3 linked regions of the Homo sapiens genome follow. The protein of the gene in region 1 interacts with the protein of each later gene in a biochemical or structural test. Each region holds a gene or a part of one and is shown on either strand. Other genes may lie near its edges.

Region 1 (7,108 bases):
TACCTCTCCACAGATAACTTCACCCGAATTCTGGAGTATGCACCCTGCCGCTCAGGTAGGGGCAAGAGGGGGCCTGTGCCCCATGTCTGCCTTCTCATATACTTGAAGTGTCTCACATACTTAGGGTTGACTCGCACCTACCATGTGCCCCCATGAGGTTCTAGGTTGCTTAAGATAAAGGCTAACCCAGTTCGTTAGCCTTTATGCTTACTGTCTGGTCCAGGAAGGCCCTTTCTCTGGTTCTCTCTCCCACCTCCTTCCCTATGCCCTCTCTTCTTTCCTGGATGACCCATCTATGCAGGGCTCATTTTCACCACCTTCTCCCCTCACAGATTTCAGCTGGGCAGCAGGACAGGGTTACTGCCAAGGAGGCTTCAGTGCCGAGTTCACCAAGGTGAGAGAGTGGTCTGGGAGAGAAGGGGCCGTGGGTGGTGGACATGGGGGGATTGGGACCAGATGTTGGACTCCCCTCCTTTCACCCACAGACTGGCCGTGTGGTTTTAGGTGGACCAGGAAGCTATTTCTGGCAAGGTAAGTCCTGTCTCTGCCATTCTTTTTTTTTTTTTTTTTTTTTTTTGAGACGAAGTCTCACTCTGTCACCCAGGCTGGAGTGCAGTGGCACAACCTCTGCTGCCCAGGTTCAAGCGATTCTCCTGCCTCAGCCTCCCAAGTAGCTGGGATTACAGGCGCCTGCCACCGCGCCTGGCTAATTTTTGTAATTTTAGTAGAGAAGGGGTTTCACCATCTTGGCCAGGCTGGTCTTGGACTCCTGACCTCGTGATCCACCCCTCTTGGCCTCTCAAAGTGCTGGGATTATAGGCATGAGCCGCCGCGCCCTGCCTGTTTCTGCCATTCTTTAAGTCCCCTGGCACATAGCCTCCCACCCTACTCCCAATTCTCCTCTTCCTTTCCTGAAGCTTACATGCCACCACCCTCCCCATGCTTCCCTTTCTTGAACCAGACTTCTGAAATACTACCCAGTCAGCCCCCAGAGTCCCAAGCCCCCTCTGCCACTTCCTCTCCATCTACTCCCTCTTCATACTCTCTCCAGGCCAGATCCTGTCTGCCACTCAGGAGCAGATTGCAGAATCTTATTACCCCGAGTACCTGATCAACCTGGTTCAGGGGCAGCTGCAGACTCGCCAGGCCAGTTCCATCTATGATGACAGCTACCTAGGTGAGCAAGCAAGTGGGGAAGGGATGGCAGAGGGAGAACCTCAAGTGCTCCTGTCCCCACTCACCCCCTCGCCTCCCCTCTCCTACTCAGGCATCCCCAGCACCCCTGCCATACTTGTCATGTGCCTGCTGACTATGAAGGCCCAGTAGGGGTGGGGAAGGGATTGGTGGATAGGCCAGAGCAGAGGGGTCCTCAAAGCAGGAATCCTAACATCCACCCACCCTGTCCCCCAGGATACTCTGTGGCTGTTGGTGAATTCAGTGGTGATGACACAGAAGGTGAGTGTGTCCCCAGGCTGGGGCCAAGGGAGGGGGATGGTTAGAGGCACAGGGCCAGAGAGCCCATGAACTTGGCCACTTACCATTATCTGCTTCCCTTTCCCCACCCTTAGGTCACAACTTTCTCTTCTCTTTGCAGACTTTGTTGCTGGTGTGCCCAAAGGGAACCTCACTTACGGCTATGTAAGACCCAGCCTGACCCCTCACTTCCTCTCCTCCCCTGCCTAATCACAAAGAACCGTGCATGGCAGTTTGCAAGGGCTCAAAAAGGTGGATCAGAACATGGGCTCTGGAGGCAGACTGGCATTCAAGTTCTGGCACTTACTCTGGCAGAATCATTCTGCTCTTTATTCATACTCTGCTTCCTGCTGAACCTCTCTGAGCCTTCTTCTTCTCTGTATACTGGGATAACAATCGTTCTGACCTCACGAGGCTCTGGCAAGGATGAAATGAGAAAATGCATGTGAAAGTACTCAGTGAATTGTTAGGCAATGTACAACTGGCAGATGTTATTATTAGACCAGGACAAGTGCTTTTTAAAAGATACAGATAAGAGTGCCATCGGATTTCATTCAATTAACAACATTTATTAAGGCAAGGTAAGAGATAAGATGAATAAGGTATCATACCCCATCTTATAAGATGCTTCTAATCAAGTATGTTAGATAAGACACACATACAATTATGATCTAAAGTGGAGCAACTATTCATTCTCTACTCAGTGCATCAGGCACTATCTATTCATGATTTCTATTCTTCACAACAAGCCTATGGGGTAGATATTATCATCTGTATTTTGCATATGAGAACACTGAGGTTCTAAGAGACCAAGTAAGTTGCTTAAGATCACCCAGTTAGTAAGTAGGTTTAAAATCAGGTCTCTCTTAATCCAAAATCAGCATTCTTTCTGCATTTTGGTAAACTTCAGCAAAGTGGATACAGTGGCATAGCAGTTTAGGGGAAAGAATAATCTCCTTTCTAGGAAAAGGATGGTAACAAGTTTGGGGAGTCAGGAAATAAAAATTTTAAATTTTTAAAAAGGAAGAGGACAGATGAGAGAAGGTTCTATGAAGGTTCAGCAGAGATGAGGCAGGAGGGCATCCTGTGCAGGAGCATGAATGAGGTGGAAGAAAAGGAAACAATTTCAGCCCAACTTAGCAGACTCATGAGCTGATTGAGGATGAGTAGAATATGGAAAGGTTGAGCAAAAACAGATAGGTTAGGGCCAGATTCTCCAGAGCTTTGGAGGACCAGCCAAGAAGTTGAGACTTTGGGCAGTGACTGCAGGGGGCCACTGGATTTCCAAGCCAGAGGTAGCCTCCTAGATCTGCTGGGAGAGCTGGAGGCAGGGACATTGTCAAGACATCTGTCCAGCAGTCCTGGGAAAGGGCTCACACCAGGATTCAAGAGGCCTGGTGGGGCCAGTCACTAAGGGAATATAGGGGAGAAATGGTGTTTGTGGTTCGGGGGACTGGAGGATGAGGATGACTTAGGTTTTGAACGTGATGGGTTTGAGGCACCAGCACACATTCAGTCATAATTATTATTGAGTGCCTACTACTCACCAAGCATGACTTTAGGTTCTGAGGAGAAAGCAAAGAACAAAATCAAGTTCCTGCCCCTATTGATCTTACATTCTAGTGGGTAGAGAGGGACAACGAACAGATAAATACAAAATCTGTCAGTGGTTGGTGATTGATAGGGAGAAAAATAGTGAAGCAGACATAGGGTGGAACTACCTGGCATAGAGGTGGGAATATGAGGGCAAAGCTGAAGAGGGAGCTAGGGACAGTGGTCTGCGTCTCTAAGGAATGCCTGCCCCTGGGTGTCCTGTACACATCTGTTCTTTAACCATGGGATATTCTGGGAGTCCAGGACCAATGGGCCTATCTCTTCATCTCCCAGGTCACCATCCTTAATGGCTCAGACATTCGATCCCTCTACAACTTCTCAGGGGAACAGGTAAGGATACCCCTCAACCCCACCCCAGCTTGGCCTCTGTCAACGAAGCCCCAGCCCTGACCTAATAATGTCAGCCCAACTTCCCAGCCCCTCTTGATCCTGTGGATTGAACCTTCTAGTTCTGACCCAGCGCTGCCCCTTTGTCCTCCCCAGATGGCCTCCTACTTTGGCTATGCAGTGGCCGCCACAGACGTCAATGGGGACGGGTGAGTGGTGGGAAATGAGCGCACTGTGATACCCTCCCAGAACCAAGAGGGAAGAGTGGGAATGGGACAGAAAATGCAAGGAGAGTTTCTCCAGGGCTTTTTCTCTAGACTCTCGCTCATACCTGCATTCCCCTTGCTCAGGGACAAGGAAAGAGCTGAGAGCTGATGATCAGAGACCTCAGGTCTTCTGACGTGATGGAATTCAGAGTGTCCGGGATTTCTAGCACTAGGATTGGGGTGGGGTGGCAAGACAGGGTATCGAGATGCCTGGGTTTGCCCTTCCCCTCAGGCTGGATGACTTGCTGGTGGGGGCACCCCTGCTCATGGATCGGACCCCTGACGGGCGGCCTCAGGAGGTGGGCAGGGTCTACGTCTACCTGCAGCACCCAGCCGGCATAGAGCCCACGCCCACCCTTACCCTCACTGGCCATGATGAGTTTGGCCGATTTGGCAGCTCCTTGACCCCCCTGGGGGACCTGGACCAGGATGGCTACAATGGTGAGTACCATGGGCTCAGAGAGTGAAAGAGGAGGCAGGGGCCCAAGTCAGAAGGGATTTGGGGAGAGGGCATCTGTCAGCTAAGATACCCAGACCTCCACGACTTCCCGAGGGGTTAAAATCCCACTGTCTGGGTCTTGGGATTTGAAGATTAGAATATAGGGACTGACAGATGGGAAAAAATAGGATCCTAGGTCCTGGGGTCTGGTAGTAGAGATTAGAGCCCATGGATTCCTGGCCTGCTGACTAGTGTGTGTTCTGTGTCTTCCAGATGTGGCCATCGGGGCTCCCTTTGGTGGGGAGACCCAGCAGGGAGTAGTGTTTGTATTTCCTGGGGGCCCAGGAGGGCTGGGCTCTAAGCCTTCCCAGGTTCTGCAGCCCCTGTGGGCAGCCAGCCACACCCCAGACTTCTTTGGCTCTGCCCTTCGAGGAGGCCGAGACCTGGATGGCAATGGATATCCTGGTGAGTTGTGCCTGAGGCCCCTTTTCACCTTAAAATTCCCTGGTCACTGACCCCTACTCTCTCTTCTGCACCTTTCCTTAAGTTCCTGGGTGCAGTTCTGGCTAATTCCAACAGAGGGCGCTGTCTTCTCACTTCAACCTCCCTGAGCGTTGAAACCAGGAGGGGTTAGGAAGAAAGGATCCTGATCTGGGGCTTGCTGTAAGAGGTGATTTCTTGACTTCTTACAGATCTGATTGTGGGGTCCTTTGGTGTGGACAAGGCTGTGGTATACAGGTATGAGCTCCAAAGGGAGATGAGGGGACAACCTGGGTGGACTGGAACTGGAAATTTCTCAACAGAGCTGAGGTTGGGAAAATCAATGCAGAGGACACACATTCTGGCGCTTGGGCATCAGTTTCCTGTGTCCAGGTTACAGAGGAGTCCTAATTCTATTGACCCCACATTCACTCTTGGCAGGGGCCGCCCCATCGTGTCCGCTAGTGCCTCCCTCACCATCTTCCCCGCCATGTTCAACCCAGAGGAGCGGAGCTGCAGCTTAGAGGGGAACCCTGTGGCCTGGTGAGCTGGTGCCCAGGAAATTGCAGAGACCTGAGCCTGGGAGTGGGCAGGGGCACCAAGTCTGCCTTAAAAAGGGGAAAATGGTGGTGTCCTAGTCTGGGTCTGGCTGGGAGATAGGTAGAGGATAGGATGTCTGTTCCAGTTGGATTCACCAGCTTTCTTCTTGGTCTCTCTCCAGCATCAACCTTAGCTTCTGCCTCAATGCTTCTGGAAAACACGTTGCTGACTCCATTGGTGAGGGAGACTGCCTGGATCTCTCAGGCCCTAGGACAGAGAATGAAGGGACTGGGGACCTGGGGACATTTCTTCTCTCTGAAAAGATGAGGAAAGACAGGCAGTTTCCCTTTATATGTCCCTGGCTTCAGGTTTCACAGTGGAACTTCAGCTGGACTGGCAGAAGCAGAAGGGAGGGGTACGGCGGGCACTGTTCCTGGCCTCCAGGCAGGCAACCCTGACCCAGACCCTGCTCATCCAGAATGGGGCTCGAGAGGATTGCAGAGAGATGAAGATCTACCTCAGGGTATGGCCCAGAGGGCGGGGTGTGGACTGGCCAGGGAGGGTGGCCACACAGAACTGAGGGCACCTCCTGAAGGGAAAAAGACTGGGGGACTCCAGTGAAGGGCTTGGGACTCTTGTAGGGGCTGAGAAAGGGAGACCTTCTGTCAGAGGAGCTGGGAAGCAGGCTGCCAGGGCCTCTGAAACAATGAGGATGGTCGGAATTGGGCCCTAAGCAGACAAAGGGAGATGAGAGAGGCTGAGGAGCAGGGCCACTAAGTCTCCAGAGTCCCCTGACTCCGTGAACTCTCTCCTCTGGCCCCAGAACGAGTCAGAATTTCGAGACAAACTCTCGCCGATTCACATCGCTCTCAACTTCTCCTTGGACCCCCAAGCCCCAGTGGACAGCCACGGCCTCAGGCCAGCCCTACATTATCAGAGCAAGAGCCGGATAGAGGACAAGGTGAGGACAGGGCAGGGAGAAGGGACCTGGGAAGACAGAGGCCTGGGTATTGGGGGGGCAGGGCCATGGAAAGAGAAGAGCCTACAGCCCAGGAATGGGTCTAAACTTCCCCTCTCAAGGCTGCCCTGCTCCCCAGGCTCAGATCTTGCTGGACTGTGGAGAAGACAACATCTGTGTGCCTGACCTGCAGCTGGAAGTGTTTGGGTAAGTAGGGCTGACGGTAAGCTAGGGAGCTCCAGGTGCACCTGGCACCTGAAAAAATCAGCTAGGGACATACTAGCTGTGTCGCCTTGGGAAGTTGCTGAGCTGCTCTGAGCTTTAACTCCTTTGTCTGTATAGTGGGAATAGTAGCATTTATTTCTCAGACTTTTTGGAAAGATTAAATGAAATAATCTACATAAAAAATCTAGCCTAGTGCCTGCCATAGAGTTAGAACTCAGTAAGCAGTGTCTATTGTTACTTTATTATTACTCTTTTTTTTTTTTTGAGACGGAGTCATGCCCTTGTCACCCAGGCTGGAGTGCAGTGGCGCAATCTCGGCTCACTGCAACCTCCGCCTCCCAGGTTCAAGCGATTCTCTGCCTCAGCGTCCCAAGTAGCTGGGATTACAGGTGCCTGCCACCATGCCGGGCTAATTTTTTTATTATTATTTTTAGTAGAGACAGGGTTTCATCATCTTGGCCAGGCTTGTCTTGAACTCCTGACCTCGTGATCCACCCGCCTCAGCCTCCCAAAGTGCTGGGATTACAGGTGTGAGCCACCACACCCGGCCTCGTATTACTACTCTTATAATGGTCCTTTGTCCTGGTTTGAGGATTAATTCACCAATGTCCCTTACCCTCTGTGTCCCTTCCAGGGAGCAGAACCATGTGTACCTGGGTGACAAGAATGCCCTGAACCTCACTTTCCATGCCCAGAATGTGGGTGAGGGTGGCGCCTATGAGGCTGAGCTTCGGGTCACCGCCCCTCCAGAGGCTGAGTACTCAGGACTCGTCAGACACCCAGGGG
Region 2 (7,108 bases), on another chromosome or scaffold:
CCACCTTGGCCTCCCAAGTGCTGGGATTACAAGTGTGAGCCACTGCACCCGGCCTTTCGAGGCAATTTTCTTTTGGGGTCTGTCTCCCTCCCCCAATTGTGGGCATGGCTTGTTCTTATTTTCCGCAGGAACTTCCATAGTACTTCTGTGGACACAGGAGGATTGGAAAGATGTTGGTGGGTGTATGAAGGGGACGTGAGGACGCAGGACCCACGTGTTGATGGCAGCAGAGGGGACACCGAGGAGAGAGAACAAGGGAGGACCGTGCCACAGAAGCCGTGGCGTCTCTGCCTGGGGCTGGCGTGGTTGGAGTCTGTGGAGAGTGCCGCCCCTCCGGCCAGCCCTTGGCCCTGGCACATGCTGGTGACACCAGGTTCTCCAGCAAGCCCCCTTCACTGTCTGCTCCCCTCCGAGAGCAGCAGCAGCCGGTCCGGCCTCTGATGGTTTTCCAGGGGCGGTTGTGACTGTCGAAGTCTGACCGTAGCCCATCCTCTTTGGATCGTCTCCCGCGACCTTGGTTTTCCGCCCACCCGGTTCTTTTCCGTCCCCACTCTGGCGGGTGCGCTCGGGATTGTTTTTGCAGGGGGGAAGTGACATCATATGGTGTCCTGGGCTGGAGGGGTGGGGGTGGGGACCCTGCAGTTGCGTGTGCTTTGAATTCAGCCGACGGTTGTACATTCCAGTAGCCGGCATCTGGCGGTGAATTCATCAGCCAGTGTATCACCCTTGATCTCAAACCCAGATGTTGTGTTCACAGCAGAAGGGAAAGAAGGAAAAACGAAATCTGAGACGCCCAGGGAGAGGCCGTGGTTTCTGGGCTCAGGGCAGTTAGAACGAGAGTCTTTATAAAGACTCCCCCTCTCGCAGCTGCCTCTGGCTCCTTGGGGAAGGGGCAGAGGAGCAGAGCAGCCCCTCTCGGGGGCATGGACAGGAGATGGGCTGACACCCACCCCAGTGCCTAACACCAGGCCCAGCACCCAGTAGGTGTTCAGTAAACGTGTCTGTGCCACAATTTTCATTTCTTCCCAGATTCCTTATGTCTCTTCGCTTTCCCCAGCCCTGTTCTTCACATGGCCTGGGACTCGGAGAGGCCCTCCCTCTTTTGAAGTGGCCTGCTTTCCCCTACAGAACTGGTGGTCCATCCTGGAGCTCAGAGTGCGGACCATTGCCATTGGCATGGAAATGTATTCCGGAGAGCTCTCTCTCCCTCCTCCTCTGTCCACCACTGGGCATTGGAAACTCTCCTTCTCTGTGTTCCTATCCATCGTCTGTCATCTTGCCTGGATTGGATGCTCCTCCCAGGCAAGGCCTGCTGTATGCAGGATTCACCCTGTACCCTCTCTTCACCTGCTGTCACCTCTGGGCAACAACCCCCGACAGGTACCCGCTGCTCTGAGCAGGTCAGCGGTGCAGATCCCGCTATGCCAACTGGTGTGCACCGATCAGAGCTGTCAGCTGGCCCCTCTCCTTCATGTCTGCGGCGTGCTGGTGCTTTGGGGAAGGTTGCCGTGGAACTGGTCCTTCTTTGCCTCTCTTGATTCCCATTTTCCTTCTTTCATGTAATTTCTCATTTTGCAAAGTGGGGGAGGAGGTGCCCACCCCCAATTTAAAGGGACCCTGAAGAATCTGAATTCTGTTCCCCAGGGGCAGACTAAAGCAGCCCAGGGGAGATGGAGATGCCCTCAGGCTCTGCTCCTCCAGGCCCCTCACCCCCACTTCCCTGCCCCTCACCCCCACTTCCCTGCAGGCATCTGGCGGCCTCCTCGCCAGTTCACTTTCTAGTCCTAACCCCACGTGGCTACCCTGGACCCTTGATTTGACCAGCCTCCTCTTTTCTGACACTTTAAAGAAGGAAAGTGTGTAATCTGCAGCCCCCAGGCAAAGCTAGCACGCTGGGAAGCTGCATCAAATCGAGAGTCTGTGGCCTGCTGACCAGGACCGGGTCTGTGTACCTGAGTGGCATGATGCCACCGTCCCAATCCCTCACCCACGGGAGCGGGAGAATTCGCCCTGCTTGTCTATGCGATGCTCGTGGTCCTGAACTGTACACGCATTAGTTCCCGGGCACCGCAGCCTCCACACCAGCCCCTCTAACAGTCACCACGACCTTGTGAAGTGTCAAGACTGTTGTCATCGTCTCTGTCTTAGGTGTGAACAACTGTGGCTCAGTGAAGTCAAGGAGCTTCTCAAAGATCACGCAGCCATCCAGGGGTGAATGCAGGATCTCTGTCTCTTGCTGCCTCCTTCAAATAAGTGCCCAGCTGCCACCTGGGAGCCTTAGGCGTTTTTGTAAGAGAACAGCATGTGAACCTCAATGCCCATGGTAGGATGCAACATTTTGGCCGTTTTGAAGTAATCTTTGCTTATTTTCTGAACTCCAGTGACATGCTTGTTGAGTGCCTATTGTGCGTTAAGCATTGTGCGGCTTAGTGGACCATTGAAAGGCAGCTCCAAGGCCGGGCGCGGTAGCTCATGCCTGTAATCCCAGCACGTTGGGAGGCCGAGGCAGGCGGATCACGAGGTCAGGAGTTCAAGACCATCCTGGCCAGCATGGTGAAACCCCGTCTCTACTAAAATAAATACAAAAAATTAGCCGGGCATGGTGGCGCGTGCCTGTAATCCCAGCTACTTGGGAGGCTGAGGCAGGAGAATTGCTTGAACCCAGGAGGCGGAGGTTGCAGTGGGCCAAGATTGCACCATTGCACTCCAGCCTGGATGACAGAGCTAGACTCCATCTCAAAAAAAAAAAAAAGAAAGAAAGAAAAGAAAAGCAGCTCCAGAAATTTCCAAAATAACATACAGAATTCAGCAGACTGTAATAAAGGCCGGCTTGCTGCTCCTACTGGAACTGTTGATTCCTTTGGATTCTGCTGGCTTGCTTTTTTTCCTTTTCTTTCTTTTCTTTTTTTAAAAGACGGAGTCTCACTCTGTTGCCCAGGCTGGAGTGCAGTGGCATGATCTCAGCTCACTGCAACTTTCACCTCCTGGGTTCAAGCGATTCTCCTGCCTCAGCCTCCCAAGTGGCTGGGATTTTTGTATTTTTTGTAGAGATGGGGTTTCACCATGTTGGCTAGGCTGGTCTCAAACTCCTGACCTCAAGTGATCCGCCCGCCTCGGCCTCCCGAAGTGCTGGGATTATAGGAGTGAGCCACCGTGCCTGGCCCTGGTTTGCTTGTGAGCTGGTGACTCTGCTACATGAAGAGCAAACTTTGACCAAGTTAATCTGGCACATTGACTAATTTGCATAAACATTTTTGGTGCAGCATTGTCGTAAGGTATATAGATTAGGCAGGGAGCAAGAGAGCCAAGGACAAACTGCACCTGGGCCACCAGCCCAAAGTTGTCAGCGTCATCTCAGCTCCATCTGGCAAAGAGTTAGTGAGCACCAACTGTTCTGCAGTCAGAATCTAGCCTCAACCTGTTAGGACCTCCCAGGGCCCTGAGCAGACAGGTGTGCAGGAACTGACAGCAGGATGGAAAAGAGATGGGGAATATACCAAGTGCTGCAGAAGGACAGGATTTCCCAGAGGAAGACAGAAAAGGGCTATTTTAGCTGGGTCTTGAAGAATGAAGAAAAGTTCTCCAGGCAGAGAGGGGAGATGGCATTTGGGGCGGAAGAAACTTGCCTGTTCAGGCTGGGTGTGGTGGCTCACACCTGTAATCCCAGCACTTTGGGAGGCCAAAGTGGGCGGATCACTTGAGGTCAGGAGTTCGAGACCAGCCTGGCCAACATGCTAAAACCCTGTCTCTACTAAAAATACCAAAAAAAAAAAAAATTAGCCTGGCAAGGTGGCAGTTACCTGTAACCCCAGCTACTCAGGAGGCTGAGGCAGGAGAATTGCTTGAACCTGGGAGGTGGAGGTTGCAGTGAGCTGAGATCAAGCCATTGCACTCCAGCCTGGGTGACAAAAGTGAAACTCCGTCTCAAAAAAATATATATGGTAATTAGCCAGGCATGGTGGTGCCCACCTGTAATCCCAGCTACCTGGGAAGCTAAGGCAGGAGAGTCATTTGAACCTGGGAGATGGCTGAGATTGCGCCACTGCACTCCAGCCTAGCAGGGGTGGGGATGACAGAGCAAGACTCTGTCTAAAAAAAAAAGAAAGAAAGAAACTTGTCTGTTCAGAGGTGTGGATGCACCTGGGCGTGTTCAGGGCAGACAAGTATTATGAAGTGGTAGAATAGTGGGAGCATGGGTGGGGGGTGTTGGGCACAGCAGCTGAGGCCCCTGGCTGACTTCAGGTTGCAAAGGCGCTCATATTTTAGGGGAGGGCAGGGGGCAGCCAAGGATGATGTTTGAGCAGAAACGAACGTGAATAAAAAAAGACAGCTGGTTGCGGTGGATGAGAGGATGGTTAGGAGGGCACTGGAAATAGGGGGCCGTCAGGGCAAAGCCGTCTGTTCTGGAGTGGCCTGCCGGGAGACATTTCCTAGATGTGGCTTTTCAGGATGAGGCATGGATTAGCCTGGGAAACAGGAACCTGTGGCCTTGGCCAGTCATGACTCAGCTCCAACAGAAGAAGAAAGAAGAAAGGGGTTTGTGCCCAGGCGAGGCAGTGGGGCTGTGGTGTGGGACTCTGATGCCAGCCTGGGATCCAGAGAGCATTGGTGGGGCCCAGGGGGATGGACACAGATGGAGCACCCACACGCCTGAGCCTCCTTGCCCCTGTGGGAAGAGACAGCCCTGCCTAAGGGGTTCTAAGAGATTTGAGCCGACCACGTGGGGTGGGGCTGGGGCTGGGGCTAGGAGGCTGCCTGGAGCCTGGCGTGGTCTGCTCCTTACCTCTCTGTTTTGCTCATATCCACCGTAACATAACACTTACCCAGAGTGACCCTGAAGAGCTGAGTTTGGGAGGGCAAAGCTTTTAAAGCCATTAAAACAGACCATGTCACCAACTAATGGCCTTGAAATTAAGAAAGGGAGGGCTCTACCCAACCCTGCCCAAGTGACAGCATGAACTACTGATCTGCTTGTCCTCAGGTTACCAGGAGTGGAACAGAATCCTGGCTTAATTGCTAGGAGAAAGCCCTGTGTTGCATGGCCTGTCAGCAACCTCAGGCTCCAGAATATTCTGGAATTGCCCCAGCCCAGCCTCTTCCCCAACTCCTTTCTGTTTGGTTGGGGCTTAGTTGGGATCCTCTTTCCTTCTGTTTGTCCTTCCTCAGCATCTGTCCCTTGGGTCTGCCAGCTGTGCCTGCCGATGTCTCCTTTGGGTGAAACTTCCTGCCCCTGCCCCTGTTGTGCCCCTGATAGACTCTGTGTTACTGTAAAGAATCACCCAGGCTGGGCGCAGTGGCTCACGCCTGTAATCTCAGCACTTTGGGAGGCCGAAGCAGGTGGATCATTTGAAGTCAGGAGTTCGAGAACAGCCTGGCCAACATGATGAAACCCTGTCTCTACTAAAAATACAAAAATTAAGGTTGGGCACTGTAGCTCATGCCTATAATCCCAGCACTTTGGGAGGCTGAGGCAGGTGGATCACCTGAGGTCAGGAGCTCAAGACCAGCCTGGCCAACATGGCGAAACGCTTTCTCTACTAAAAATACAAAAATTAGCTGGGTGTGGTGGCAGCTGCCTATAATCAGAGCTACTTGAGAAGCTGAGGCAGGAGAATTTCTTGAACCCAGGAGGCAGAAGTTGCAGTGAGCCAAGATCATGCCACTGCACTCTAGCCTGGACGACAGAGTGAGACTCCGTCTGAAAAAAAAAAAAAATTAACCGGGCGTGGTGACAGACGCCTGTAATCCCAGCTACTTGAGAGGCTGAGGCAGGAGAATCACTTGAACCTGGGAGATAGAGGTTGCAGTGAGCCAAAACGGTGCCACTGCACTCCAGCCTGGGCAACAGCGCGAGACTCCATCTCAATAACAACAACAACAAAAATTACTCATAGAACATTTTCCAGGTCAGGAAAGATGAGAAGAGCTGGATAGACCTTTCCAGATGTAAGACCCCCAAAGCTAAATATGCCGGGTACGTTTAAGGCCCCTTTAAGGTGGATAACTCCCCCTCTGCCCTCAGCCCAGAAAAGCTTGTTTCCAATAGGCCGTGGCTGGAGGGTGGGGAAATGTCCCATCCTTCGCGGAATGTGTGGGATTGTGGGTCAGTTCCATGGGGTACCTGCTTGCCCCAGCCACCAGTGAGTACCCACTGGAGAGAAGGAAAAAAAAAGCCAAAAGCACTCAAGCATGATATCAACAGATGAGCTTCAGTCAAATCAATGACTGCCTCCCACTGTTACAGAAACTGCCTTGGTCACAAGGGACTCTGGGCTTCTGGCTTGGGCCCCTGTCAACAAAGAAGGGATTCTTGTTGAAGAATCGTGGAAGGAGGAGGAGGAGGCTGGGCATCATCTCTCAGCCTGGAGGAGGAGACGCCATGCCGGGGGCTGGGATCACCATGCCCCTTGCCCGTCTCGCACCTTGCTGCTGTCTGTAACCCCCCAGCACCTCCCGCAGGCCTGGACGTCTTATCCCTCTCCTTAGCCCCAGGAGCGTGTTTCAGGAACTCTCCTCACCTCTGTGTCTTGTGTTTTGCAGTGATCAGGGCCAAAGCGGTCAGTGAGAAGGAAGTGGACTCTGGAAACGACATTTATGGCAACCCTATCAAGAGGATCCAGTATGAGATCAAGCAGATAAAGGTAATAGTGGCTGCCGGCATCCCGGGCTGCACTGTGGGCACAGCTGTGGGGTGTTGGGGTTGGCAGAGAGCCTGGGTCCCTGGAACACGATCTGGCCACCTGTGGACTAGAGCAGAGGATGAGGTCATCAAGCTGCAAATAGATCCGATTTCCCTTAATCCTCGAATGCCTGAAAAGTTGTGTGGAGATGACATGCTCCCCACAAATTCAATTCCTTCAGAAACCTGTCCGGGCGTTGCGGCTCACACCTGTAATCCCAGCACTTCGGGAGGCCGAGGTGGGCGGATCACTTGAGCTCAGGAGTTCAAGACCAGTCTGGGCAACATGGTGAAAATCCATCTCTACAAAAAACCAGCCAGGCATGGTAGCGCCCACCTGTGGTCCCAGCTATTCGGGAGGCTGAGGTGGGAGAATCGCTTAAGCCCAGGAGGCAGAGGTTGCAGTGAGACATCTCACCACTGTATTCC
Region 3 (6,277 bases), on another chromosome or scaffold:
GTATCCCCAGTGATGATGACTTGGAGGTTCCCGGGGGCTCACCTGGGTTCAGGTGAGATGCAGGTTATAGAGAGGACACTAGGGAATCCTCCATTCCGTCCAGAGGGAACCAGAGGGGCTGATCAAACCAGCAGTCACAGGGGCCGTTGTGAGGTCAGTGGCCTTGGACGCAGGTCAGTCTTCCAGAGGGTCCTGGCTGCTTTTCCTCACATTCTTTACACTGTGAGCCCCTGGAAGCTCATGCTCATCCTGGGGGCCCCATGGAAGCCAGATGTACCCCCGACTGGATTCAGGCACCCAGCTCCTGCCCGGCTCTGTCAGCTCCTGTAGGGGCTGGAGTGTTGGTGGACTGAGTCCCAGAAGGACATGTGGGGCGGGGGAATCCCATTATCTGCCCTGGAAACATTCTGCCTGTGCTCCCAGGGGTCCCTAGGCCTGCTGCCCCCATAGGCCAGCACCCCCAAACTGCAGACACCCTCTGCAGGGCGGGTCAGCACGGGGCCTCCGTTCCCCTCCTATCCTTCCCTCAGGGTCTTGCCACCTCCACTCCCAGTGCTGGAGAACTCAGGGCTTCTCTGCCCCTGTTCTGTCTATGGAGTGAAGGGCTGAGACCCCTAAAACAAGGAAAGGCGAGTTTGGCCTCCTTGCGGGGTAGGGGGGGCTGTATGTATCTTCCACTCCTCCCTCATGGAGGTGCCCCTCATGGAGAGGCCAGGGGACCTTGAAGCCCTGAAATACAAGCTCAGCAGGGGAGACCCAGGACAGCATATGGGGCCTGGAGGTGTGGGCGGTGGGTGCTGCAGGCCCCAGCCTCGCCCTCGCTGGTCTCTGCCTGCAGGCGTGAACGATGGTGACATGCGGCTGGCCGATGGGGGCGCCACCAACCAGGGCCGCGTGGAGATCTTCTACAGAGGCCAGTGGGGCACTGTGTGTGACAACCTGTGGGACCTGACTGATGCCAGCGTCGTCTGCCGGGCCCTGGGCTTCGAGAACGCCACCCAGGCTCTGGGCAGAGCTGCCTTCGGGCAAGGTAGGGCCTGCTGTCCCCTTCCACTGAGGCTGAGACCCACAGCACAGCCAGCTCCCAGGAGGGGCAAATCCCCTAAGACGAAACAGTCAGGTTTCAAAGACATGCAAATTGGATTCCTATTAATTTAGCAAGAGCAAACACTTTTTTTTTTTTTTTTTTTTTTTTTTTTTTTTGAGATGGAGTCTCGCTCTGTTGCCCAGGCTGGAGTGCAGTGGCACAATCTCGGCTCACTGCAACCTCCGCCTCCTGAGTTCAAGTGATTCTCCTGTCTCAGCCTTCTGAGTAGCTGGGATTACAGGTACCTGCCACCATGCCCGGCTGATTTTTGTATTTTTTAGTAGAGACAGAGTTTCACCATGTTGGCCAGGCTGGTTTTTAAACTTCCGGTGTCAAGTGATCCGCCCGCCTCAGCCTCCCAAAGTGCTGGGATTACCACACCCGGCCTATGAGCAAACATTTTCAATGGTGCTGAAGGCCTGCGGATCAAGTTCTGATGGGACTGCTCCACCCACACTTGGCCAGTGATGGTGGCGGGTGCTTGGGCAGGTTCAAGAGCTCGGCTGGGCTCGTTCCCTCCGGCCCAGAAACTCCACTCCAGGGAGTTTATCCCATTGAAACAATTTCTCCTCAAAAGAAAAGTCTGCAGGAAGATTTCCACTGACACAGCAGTTGCGATTCTGGAAAAAAAAGAAACAATCCATAAACTATTTAGCAGCAGGGATAGTCACACAATTACAGTATGTGAACCTGATGTTGCAGGGATAGTCACACAATTACAATATGTGAACCTGATGTTGCAGGGATAGTCACACAATTACAGTATGTGAACCTGATGTTGCAGGGATAGTCACACAATTACAGTATGTGAAACTGATGTTGCAGGGATAGTCACACAATTACTATACATGAATGTGATGTCGCTGAAGCAGCCGGTAAGCTTTATAAGCATGAAGGCTAAGTTTATGGCCTGACATTGCAATCACAAATCCAGCCCATGCTGGAATATCCTCCGTGGTTCGCTGGTGAAGGACCTGTAAGCAGATGGACCCACACGGCCGGGGCGGAGAACAAAGGGCTGAGTCGCGCTGTGGGACTCCTGGGTGCAGTCGTCACGCCCCCAGCCCTGCCATCTGCTGTGTCCACAGGATCAGGCCCCATCATGCTGGATGAGGTCCAGTGCACGGGAACCGAGGCCTCACTGGCCGACTGCAAGTCCCTGGGCTGGCTGAAGAGCAACTGCAGGCACGAGAGAGACGCTGGTGTGGTCTGCACCAATGGTGAGCGGGGGCGCACCTCCCTGCGGAGGCCCCAGTGTGCCCTGGGGTCCCGTGGCCCCTGCCCCTCCCAGCACCACCCCCCCACGCACATGAAGCACACAAAGGTTCCTTCCACTACCGCCTGCCCACTCCGCATGGAGAGGCCCAGACGTCCCAAGAGCCCACCAGCTCCCAGTCCCACAGTCCCAGACTCCTCCCCAGCCCCTTCTGGAGAAACACCCAGAACCACCAAGTCTCCATGCAGAACCCGAGTGTGGGGCAGTGAGCCACAGTTTCAGTGAGCATGACACCTGGCTCCAGCCTGACCTGAAATGCCAGCGTCCGCTCAGAAATACACTTCACAGCACGCGACAGGCTCAAGCCCGTCCTGGCGGAGGGAGTCCCGGCTACTCGCAGCCTCAGCCTGCTTCCCCCAACCTGGCCCAGTTTGGAGGGAACCCAGGCTGCTCTGCAGGTTGGAGCCTCTGGATCTGAGTTTCTTGTTTTTCTTTCATGCCGAGGTGGCTCTTCCTGGGCTTGCACGTGACAACCTGGGCATTTCCTGCCCACTGCCCTTTGCCAGGAGTTGGAGGCCCCTAAGGCAGGACGGGTCGAATCCCAGGGAGCCCCTGTGCCCACATGGGATGGACAAGTGGCTGGAGCTGAGCCTGGACTCACAGTGGGGGAAGCCCAGGAGACGCCATGGGGCTGTCGGGGGCCAGGGGAGGCGGCGGGGAGCACACGGGGCCATGGGCGCACGGCCAAAGCTCCTGGGGCAGGAGAGCTGTGGTAAGGCGTGCAGGTGGGAGGGAGCTGGGGGTCCTGCGGTGGCTCAGGTTTTAGGAGGCCCAGGGCAAGCCCACCTGGTTGAAAGGTCACAGTTACTTCAAAACTACTATATTTGTGGCGAAGAAAAACCTATGGGATTTCATTTTGAGTTAGGCTTTGAGAGGGGCTCAAAGAAGGGGAGAGGGTGCACCACACTGACCCCCGAGCCGGGAGCCTCCCATGACTTCTGCAGGCCTTCTCCCCGACAGGAAGCTGCTCGAGGACCCCCGGAGTTCTAAAATGGGGTTGCCACAGGACCCTAACTTTTCAGGCCATCTAAGCAGGCAGTGGTTTTGGTGTTAGTGGTGATTGGTGACCAAGGCTGGGGAGTGGGGGCTCCGGAGTCAGTACCACCAAGTCTCCATGCGGAGCTGCTGCCTGAGTCGGGGGAGCAGCACAGAGCAGAGGGCCTAAAGCGGGGGCCTGGACAGGCTTGGCCAGGTCCTAGCTGCTCTTGTTCCCCAGGGCTGGAAGGGGCGGGGCCTCAGGGTCCAGGAATCCGACACTTCCGGTCTCTCTTGTCCCTCGTCTTCCCAGGAGCCTTCCAGAGTGAATGAGGCAGCCACAAATCCCTCACTTTCAGATGAAGACACTGACCCCAGAGAGTGGCAGTGCCCCGGCTCCTAACGCAGCCCACTTCCCTCCCGCCCCTTCTTAGAAACCAGGAGCACCCACACCCTGGACCTCTCCAGGGAGCTCTCGGAGGCCCTTGGCCAGATCTTTGACAGCCAGCGGGGCTGCGACCTGTCCATCAGCGTGAATGTGCAGGGCGAGGACGCCCTGGGCTTCTGTGGCCACACGGTCATCCTGACTGCCAACCTGGAGGCCCAGGCCCTGTGGAAGGAGCCGGGCAGCAATGTCACCATGAGTGTGGATGCTGAGTGTGTGCCCATGGTCAGGGACCTTCTCAGGTGAGCCGTCTCGTCCTCAGGCTCTGGGGCCGCCAGGGGCTTTGTCCTCCTCCCCTCTTCAAAAGCACAGCCCCCCACACACACACCTGCACATACTCATGCATGCACATGTACACACGCAGTCACACATGCACTCACGCAGTTGCACACACACGCATGCTCACTCCCACACTGTGTGCACTCAGGTGGCTGTGTTGGACAGTTGGGCCCAGGGCTCCCCTGCTGTCCTGTGGGGCCGGCATCTGCTCTCCTTCTTTCTCCCCAGGTACTTCTACTCCCGAAGGATTGACATCACCCTGTCGTCAGTCAAGTGCTTCCACAAGCTGGCCTCTGCCTATGGGGCCAGGCAGCTGCAGGGCTACTGCGCAAGCCTCTTTGCCATCCTCCTCCCCCAGGACCCCTCGTTCCAGATGCCCCTGGACCTGTATGCCTATGCAGTGGCCACAGGGGACGCCCTGCTGGAGAAGCTCTGCCTACAGTTCCTGGCCTGGAACTTCGAGGCCTTGACGCAGGCCGAGGCCTGGCCCAGTGTCCCCACAGACCTGCTCCAACTGCTGCTGCCCAGGAGCGACCTGGCGGTGCCCAGCGAGCTGGCCCTACTGAAGGCCGTGGACACCTGGAGCTGGGGGGAGCGTGCCTCCCATGAGGAGGTGGAGGGCTTGGTGGAGAAGATCCGCTTCCCCATGATGCTCCCTGAGGAGCTCTTTGAGCTGCAGTTCAACCTGTCCCTGTACTGGAGCCACGAGGCCCTGTTCCAGAAGAAGACTCTGCAGGCCCTGGAATTCCACACTGTGCCCTTCCAGTTGCTGGCCCGGTACAAAGGCCTGAACCTCACCGAGGATACCTACAAGCCCCGGATTTACACCTCGCCCACCTGGAGTGCCTTTGTGACAGACAGTTCCTGGAGTGCACGGAAGTCACAACTGGTCTATCAGTCCAGACGGGGGCCTTTGGTCAAATATTCTTCTGATTACTTCCAAGCCCCCTCTGACTACAGATACTACCCCTACCAGTCCTTCCAGACTCCACAACACCCCAGCTTCCTCTTCCAGGACAAGAGGGTGTCCTGGTCCCTGGTCTACCTCCCCACCATCCAGAGCTGCTGGAACTACGGCTTCTCCTGCTCCTCGGACGAGCTCCCTGTCCTGGGCCTCACCAAGTCTGGCGGCTCAGATCGCACCATTGCCTACGAAAACAAAGCCCTGATGCTCTGCGAAGGGCTCTTCGTGGCAGACGTCACCGATTTCGAGGGCTGGAAGGCTGCGATTCCCAGTGCCCTGGACACCAACAGCTCGAAGAGCACCTCCTCCTTCCCCTGCCCGGCAGGGCACTTCAACGGCTTCCGCACGGTCATCCGCCCCTTCTACCTGACCAACTCCTCAGGTGTGGACTAGACGGCGTGGCCCAAGGGTGGTGAGAACCGGAGAACCCCAGGACGCCCTCACTGCAGGCTCCCCTCCTCGGCTTCCTTCCTCTCTGCAATGACCTTCAACAACCGGCCACCAGATGTCGCCCTACTCACCTGAGCGCTCAGCTTCAAGAAATTACTGGAAGGCTTCCACTAGGGTCCACCAGGAGTTCTCCCACCACCTCACCAGTTTCCAGGTGGTAAGCACCAGGACGCCCTCGAGGTTGCTCTGGGATCCCCCCACAGCCCCTGGTCAGTCTGCCCTTGTCACTGGTCTGAGGTCATTAAAATTACATTGAGGTTCCTACATTTGTTTGTACAGAAAGTGTTGTTGGGTCCACACCGTGTTTAGACATCAGGTGTGCCAGGCTCTGGGGGACAGGTCATGAGGCAGAGTCCCTGTCCTTGTGAAGCTACAGGCTAACGGGGAAGACAGGGAACAGGAAGCACACCTCCCAGCCCGGAGCAATGACACAGTGGGACACGAGCAGGAGGGTGCGTGCCACTGCATGCGTGCACGTGGGTGTGTGATTGCATGTGCACAGGCGTGTGTGTGCTCATGAAAGTCTGGCTGTGACGGGTGCCCTCACCCCTTATCTGGGTAGGTGTGCTCTTAAAATTTTATTTACTTTTGAGACAGAATCTTGTTCTGTCGCCCAGGCTGGAGCTCAGTGGTGTGATCTTGGCTCACTGCAACCTCCACCTCCCGGTTTCAAGTGCTTCTCCCGCCTCAGCCTCCTGAGTAGCTGGGACTACAGGCACCTGCCATCGTACCTGGCTAACTTTTGTATTTTTGTAGAGACAGGGTTTCACCATGTGGGCCAGGCTGGTCTTGAACTCTTGA

Evidence for each region.
Region 2: the proteins of ITGA5 (region 1) and TIMP2 form a complex in vitro, tested with the Homo sapiens proteins (one study listed by BioGRID).
Region 3: the proteins of ITGA5 (region 1) and LGALS3BP form a complex in vitro, tested with the Homo sapiens proteins (one study listed by BioGRID).

Annotation. Positions count from the first base shown.
Region 1 is NC_000012.12:54,402,179-54,409,286, reverse strand, and holds part of ITGA5 (integrin alpha-5 precursor), read left to right. Parts: coding exon 1-55; intron 56-332; coding exon 333-394; intron 395-485; coding exon 486-531; intron 532-1,051; coding exon 1,052-1,177; intron 1,178-1,410; coding exon 1,411-1,455; intron 1,456-1,594; coding exon 1,595-1,638; intron 1,639-1,780; exon of another isoform or gene 1,781-1,890; intron 1,891-3,360; coding exon 3,361-3,417; intron 3,418-3,570; coding exon 3,571-3,623; intron 3,624-3,912; coding exon 3,913-4,121; intron 4,122-4,392; coding exon 4,393-4,584; intron 4,585-4,713; exon of another isoform or gene 4,714-4,789; intron 4,790-4,811; coding exon 4,812-4,857; intron 4,858-5,040; coding exon 5,041-5,142; intron 5,143-5,320; coding exon 5,321-5,376; intron 5,377-5,507; coding exon 5,508-5,662; intron 5,663-5,962; coding exon 5,963-6,100; intron 6,101-6,236; coding exon 6,237-6,304; intron 6,305-6,956; coding exon 6,957-7,107; intron 7,108-7,108.
Region 2 is NC_000017.11:78,873,352-78,880,459, reverse strand, and holds part of TIMP2 (metalloproteinase inhibitor 2 precursor), read left to right. Parts: intron 1-6,540; coding exon 6,541-6,641; intron 6,642-7,108. UniProt on the Homo sapiens protein: Complexes with metalloproteinases (such as collagenases) and irreversibly inactivates them by binding to their catalytic zinc cofactor. Known to act on MMP-1, MMP-2, MMP-3, MMP-7, MMP-8, MMP-9, MMP-10, MMP-13, MMP-14, MMP-15, MMP-16 and MMP-19.
Region 3 is NC_000017.11:78,970,718-78,976,994, reverse strand, and holds the end of LGALS3BP (galectin-3-binding protein precursor), read left to right. Parts: intron 1-838; coding exon 839-1,030; intron 1,031-2,175; coding exon 2,176-2,307; intron 2,308-3,772; coding exon 3,773-4,025; intron 4,026-4,290; coding exon 4,291-5,419; 3' UTR 5,420-5,740; downstream 5,741-6,277.